Linked DNA regions of Homo sapiens. The protein of the gene in region 2 interacts with the protein of the main gene of each other region in a biochemical or structural test. Each region holds a gene or a part of one and is shown on either strand. Other genes may lie near its edges.

Evidence for each region.
Region 1: the proteins of PLIN3 (region 2) and RAB9A form a complex in vitro, tested with the Homo sapiens proteins (one study listed by BioGRID).

The regions. Positions count from the first base shown.
Region 1 is NC_000023.11:13,705,967-13,708,726, forward strand, and holds part of RAB9A (ras-related protein Rab-9A), read left to right. Parts: intron 1-2,754; 5' UTR 2,755-2,760. UniProt on the Homo sapiens protein: The small GTPases Rab are key regulators of intracellular membrane trafficking, from the formation of transport vesicles to their fusion with membranes.
Region 2 is NC_000019.10:4,853,858-4,857,679, forward strand, and holds part of PLIN3 (perilipin-3), read right to left. Parts: intron 1-3,822. UniProt on the Homo sapiens protein: Structural component of lipid droplets, which is required for the formation and maintenance of lipid storage droplets. Required for the transport of mannose 6-phosphate receptors (MPR) from endosomes to the trans-Golgi network.

The DNA.
Region 1 (2,760 bases), on a different chromosome or scaffold from region 2:
GGGAAGGTGGCTAGAGTGAGGCTGGCCAAGAGCAGGGGCCAGGTGTCTTGCCTTAGAAGTTGGACTTAGTCCTGGATCTCTGGGAAACAACCCGCTGAAGAATTCTGAGGAGACATTAGATAGATGGTTCCCCTATGTCAAAATAGTTGGTTTGCTTTTATGGTTTTCAATCTTTTCTTTTTAAGTTGTTGAAGCAAGATGCCAAAGAATTAAAGCAGCCAATTTAGCACATTGTTACCTATGTCAGGAAAGTAAGGGGCTTGGGACTGTTGCAGTTTCCTCTTTAACATTAATAGTCTGGATATTGAGCAATACATTTGAAATTGAAAAAGTCTCTCAAAAGGTATGCACCTTAACTGCCACACACTTGTGTTGGACAGTTTAAATTGTATTAATATTAATTATAGTAGTAATTACTGTAGTATTAATTTGTTTTGTTTTTTGAGATGGAGTCTTGCTTTGTCACCTAGGCTGGAGTGCAGTGGTGCAATCTCAGCTCACGGCAACCTACGCCTCCCAGGTTCAAGGGATTCTCCTGCCTCAGCCTAGTACCTGGGACTACAGGCGCTTGCCACCACGTCCAGCTAATTTTTTTTTTTTTTTTGTATTTTTAGTAGAGACGGGGTTTCACCATGTTGGCCAGGCTGGTCTCGAACTCCTGACCTCAAGTGACCTGCCCGCCTCAGCCTCCCCAAGTGCTGGGATTACAGGTGTGAGCCATCGTGCCTGGCCTGTAGTAGTAATTTGAAAGAACCAGTAAGAGGTAGGGACTAAGGTATGTCCCATCATTTTTTAATAGTATTTCCCATTCACTTGATTTCTCACTATACAAGCCACTACAAGGTTTTTATCAGAACAGTGGAGCATGTGGCTAGAAGTGCAGAATTCCTACATGTTACAGTAAGTGTTCAGTTACACTATAGTTGCTCACATTGCATATAACCAGGAGACAGCCAGATAATGTTTACTGCAGTGATTTTACAAATTCATCCTGGTCAATATAACAATTATTGTTCATGTCTTTATTGCCTTCCCATGGAGGGATTCATAATACCTACTTTCCTATTAAGGTTATTGACCAAATTTGCTCTAGATCTGTGCTCTCCAATTGGCTCATTAAATGTGGCTATTTATTTAAAATTGAATAAAATTTAAAATGCGGTTTTTCACTTCCATCAGCCTCATGTCAAGTGTTCCACAGTCACATGCGGCTAAGTGGCTGCTATATTGGACATTTCCATTGTTGCATAAAATTCTCTTGTACAGTGCTGCTCTAATAGTTATCTTCTTATATACATTTTAGTATACTTAAAAACCATTTAATACTAAAGTACAGATTAAATGATATAATCTGATTCGAAATAACTGGGGAGAAGGGAGAGTTGGAGGGGTTATGGAGGAAACAAGATTTGCCATAAGTTGATAATTGTGAAGCTGGGTTTAGAGTTCATGGGAGCTCATTGTATTGTACTCATTATATAGAAATTTTGTACATGTTTTACATTTTTCACAATAAAAATGTAAGCAGAAGGATTAACCAGGAACTGTGCTCCCACCAGCACCTAGAAGTAGCTGTCTGTCAACGGGCATCTGAAATCTCACCCCCCACAGGCTGGCTCTTGTAGTGTAGTAAAGTTTTTAATCCTGCCACAGGACTTCTAAAGAACACATATAGTACCACATTTTCATTTAAGGTTTATTTCATTCTACCTGAAAACACACAAGTAGCAGCAGTCTCATGTTCCTTAAGTGTTTGAACTGCCCAAGTGAATCTTGTGGATAGAATGTGCTAGATTATATTAAAAATTCCATTGCTGCTGACATTAATTTGAACAAATTCAAAATAATGTTCTTAATGAAGAGAATAAAGTCCATTTACTCAGTGGTTGGTTCATACTTTATTTCACAGCCAGGTAAGTCAGTTTCTGTCTCTGGCTTTCCTGGTTAACAGCACCTGTGTCTGAAGAGAGGTGGAGGGAGTAGTAGAGAAAGTCCCTGGTAGGAGAGAGGCCTTAAGTGAACACCATCACTGTGCACTGAAGGGCTGTTTGAAGTTGTTAAGAGAAACATGTGGGCTGGGCATGGTGTCTCACGCCTGTAGTCCCAGCACTTTGGGAGGCCAAGACAGGTGGATTGCTTGGGCCCAGGAGTTTGAAGCCAGCCTGGGCAACGTGGTTGAGACCCTGTCTCTACAAAAAAATAGAAAAATTAGCAAGGCATGGTGGTGTGCACCTGTGATTTCAGCTACTTGGGAGGCTGAGGTGGGAGGATTGCTTGAGCCTGGGAGTTCAAGGCTGCAGTAAGCCAAGATGGTCCCATGCACTCCAACCTGGGTGACAGCGAGATCCTGTCTCAAAAAAAAAAACAAAACCAAAACAACAACAACAACAACATGCGAACTTTGGTCTCCTACCCATCTCTAACAAATGGTGGGGCTTACTATGAGCAGAGAGGGGCTTATCATAGAGTAACGGTTCAGAGCAAGGGCTTTGGGGTCAGACTTGGGCTTGAGTGCCAGCTTCACAGTCAACTGTGACCTGAGAAAAGGGAAGAGTGAGCCCTTCCCAGCTGTTTCAGAGAATAATGGTAGAATAGTAGCCTGCACATGGCTAAGTGCTCAGTAAACAACAAGTCTTATTATTAGGTATTCCCTGGGGCCATATGTTTTATTTCAGCTAAATGCTGATATTCGTAGAATCATGTAGAAGAATGTGTAGGTATAAAGGAATGTAATGGTGCCTTTTTATTTTACAGGGTTCT
Region 2 (3,822 bases):
ATCCTTTGACTACGCCCCACCCAGCACATGGTGAGCGCTCATCTGTCAATACCTGCTGTTCTCGAATCTAAGTCTTTTTTTTTTTTTTCTTTTGAGACAGGGTCTCACTGTGTCACTCAGGCTGGAGTGCAGTGGTGCAATCATAGCTTACTCAAGCCTTGACCTCTTCGGCTCCAGCGATCCTCCCACCTCAGCCTCCCAAGTAGCTGAGACTACAGGTACGCACCACCACACCCGGCTTATTTTTTTATTTTTTGTAGAGACAAGGACTCTCCATGTTGCCCAGGCTGGTTTCGAACTCCTGGCCTCAAGCAGTCCTCCTGCTTTGGCCTCCCAAAGTGCTGGGATGACCGACATGAGCCACTGTGTCCAGCTGAAGCTAAGTCTTTAGACAGATCTCTATGCAGAGGGCTCTCCGCAAAGTTGAAAACCACACCTGCCCCATTCCTACCCAAGTTGGTGCTTCCCTGAAGACTCAGTCCTCTTGTACTCATGAGAGTTCATCTTTTTGTGGGGGAAGAGGGTGTGAGAGTCAAGTTTTTTGTTTTTGTTTTTGTTTTTTTTTACAGAGTTTTTGCTCTTGTCACCCAGGCTGGAGTGCAGTGGCACTATCTCGGCTCACCGCAACCTCCACCTCCCAGGTTCAAGCGGTTCTCCTGCCTCAGCCTCCCCAGCAGCTGGGACTACAGGCGTGCACTGCCACGGCCGGCTAATTTTTTGTATTTTTAGTAGAGACGGGGTTTCACTGTGTGAGCCAGCATGAGCCAACGCCCCCGATGAGAGTCAGGTTCTAACAGCCCCACTACTCAGTGAACACGCACGTTCTCACACTGGCCCGGATTAAAATCTAGCTCTGACAACACCACCGTCCCCCAGAACCTGGGGAAAGTTACCTCTTCACAAAGGGGGAAAAAACTCATAGGGCCCAGAATTGAGAGAGCATTGCACCTCTCAAAAAGTCAAGAGCTCACAGCAGGCCAGGCACGGTGGCTCACACCTGTCATCCCGGCACTTTGGGAGGCTGAGGTGGGAGGATCGCTTGGGCCCAGAAGTGTGAGAACAGCCTGGGCAACATAGTAAGACCTCACCTCTACAAAAAATACAAAAATTGGCCGGGCACGGTGACTCACGCCTATAATCCCAGCACTTTGGGAGGCCAAGGCAGCTGGATCACCTGAGGTCAGGAGTTCGAGACCAGCCTGGCCAACATGGTGAAACCCCATCTCTACTAAAAATACAAAAATTTGCTGGGCGTAGTGATGGGCGCCTATAATCCCAGCTACTTGGGAGGCTGAGGCAGGAGGATCACTTGAACCCAGGAGGCAGAGGTTGCAGTGGGCTGAGATCACGCCACTGCATTCCAGCCTGGGCAACAGAACGAGACTCCATCTGAAAAAAAAAAAAAAAAAAAAAAAAAGCTCCCAGCTGCTGCTCTGTTCAGTGACCTTGAAGAATTCACCCTGAGCTTATCCCTTCTATAAACAGAAAGACTGTTGGCCTCCTACGCTATCAGTGGGAGAGAAAGGGAAGCAAGGGCTTGGCCCTGAGACGGGGGCTCCTGGTTGACGTTTCCCATCTTCCTGTAAGCTCAGCAGTTTCCATCCCCCCTCAGCCAAGCCCACTATTGGCCTTTGCTGATAAGGTGTAGGCATGGCTGGGCATAGTGGCTCACAACTATAATCCCAGCACTTTGGGAAGCCAAGGCAGGCAGGAGGATTGCTTGAGCCCAGGAGTTTGTTTTTTGTTTTGTTTCTGAGATGGAGTCTCGCTCTGTTGTTCTGATCTCGTGATCCGCCCGCCTCGGCCTCCCAAAGTGCTGGGATTACAGGCGTGAGCCACCGTGCCTGGCTAGCCTGGGAGTTTGAGACCAGCCTGGGCAATATAGCAAGACCCCATTCCTACAAAAAATTAAAAAATTAGTCAGGTGTGGTGGTGCACACCTGTAGTCCCAGCTTCTCAGGAGGCTGAGAGCTGGGAGGATTGCCTAAGTCTAGGAGGTCAAGGCTGTAGTGAGCCAAGATCACGCCACTGCACTCTAGCTTGGGCTACAGAGCAAGACCTTGTCTCAAAAAAAAAAAAAAAATGCAAGTTGACAACCGCTCTGCTGTTTCCCAGCTAAGGCCATTTCTGCATAAATGGGAGGTGAGGAAGTCTAACCATGATGGGACAGCACAGCTCCCCGGCATACAGTAGGCACTCAATAGCAAGTGGATGAATAAGCTGCCTGTCCCTGCAGGTGGTCTCAGGGAAAGTCCAAGGATGCTGGGATGCGGCTGGCTTGTCCTGCCTCCAACCCAGGGATCACCTATTTCTGATGCTACAGACCCAGACACAAGCAGGTGGTACCCGAGGGTGGCCCTTCTGTAACCACTGGGCTGAAGCGGACATGGAGCACCTGAATACTTAATAAGCATCTATCTGCAGGGCGCGGTGGCTCACACCTGTAATCCCAGCACTTTGGGAGGCCGAGGCAGGCAGATCACCTGAGGTTGGGAGTTCGAGACCAGCCTGACCAACATGGAGAAACCCCATCTCTACTAAAAAGATAAAATTACCCAGGCATGGTGGTGCATGCCTGTAATCCCAGCTACTCGGGAGGCTGAGGCAGGAGAATCGCTTGAGCCCGAGAGGCGGAGGTTGCAGTGAGCCGAGATCGCACCATTGCACTCCAGCCTGGGCAACAAGAGCAACACTCTGTCTCAAAAAACTAAAAAAATAAGCATCTACCCTGTGCCAGGCTGCCTGCTGGGCACTGGACACAGCCACAAAGCAGGCAGCCTGTGCCCTGGTCCCAGCTGGGGAGACAAACAATAACCGATTAAGCCTCACACTTATCTGAAGGAGGGTGTTTTTTTTTTTTTTTTTGAGACAGAGCCTTGCTCTGTTGCCCAGGCTGGAGCGTGGTGGCACGATCTCGGCTCACTGCAACCTCTTGCCTCCCAGGTTCAAGTGATACTCGTGCCTCAGCCTCCCGAGTAGCTGAGATTATAGGAACTCACCATCACGCCTGGCTGATTTTTGAATTTTTAGTAGACACAGGGTTTCACCATGTTGGCCAGGCTGGTCTCGTACTCCTGATCTCAAGTGATCTGCACGCTTCGGCCTCCCAAAGTGCTGGGAGTAAGGCGTGAGCCACCACGCCTGGTCTGTGCCTCATTTTTTCATCCCAGGCTGTTATAGGTTGAATTATGGCCCCCTCAACCCCAAATTCTTATGTTGAAGTCCTGATCCCCAGGGGTAAGAATGTGGCTGTATTTAGAGACAGGGTCTTTAAAAAGCGGTGATTAAGGGAAACTGAGGTAGGGCACAGTGGCACACTCCTATAATTCTAGCACTTTGTGGGGCTGAGGCAGGAGGATTGCTTGAGCCCAAGAGTTGGAGACCGGCCTGGGCAATATGGCGAGACTCCGTCTTGACAAAAAGTACAAAAATTAGCCAGGCGTGGTGGATGCACCTAGTCCCAGCTACTCAGGAGGCTGAGGCAGGAGGATCTGTTGAGCCCAGGAGTCTGAGAACAGCCTGGGCAACATGGTGAAAACTCGTCTCTACAAAAAATTAAAAATAGCCAGGCATGGTGGTGCATGCCTGTGGTCCCAGCTACTTGGGAAGCTGAGATGGGAGGATCACTTGAGCCCAGGAGTTCAAGGCTGCAGTTGAGCCATGATCACACTACTGCACCCCACCCTGGGTGACAGAGTGAGAACCTGTCTCAAAAAAAAAATTTTTTTTTTTAATGTTAAGAGCCAACATTTGCTACAAGCCATGTGCTGTTCTGGGCCTTCAGGTGTTAACCCCAGGTCAGCATTGCCATTCTGTAGAAAA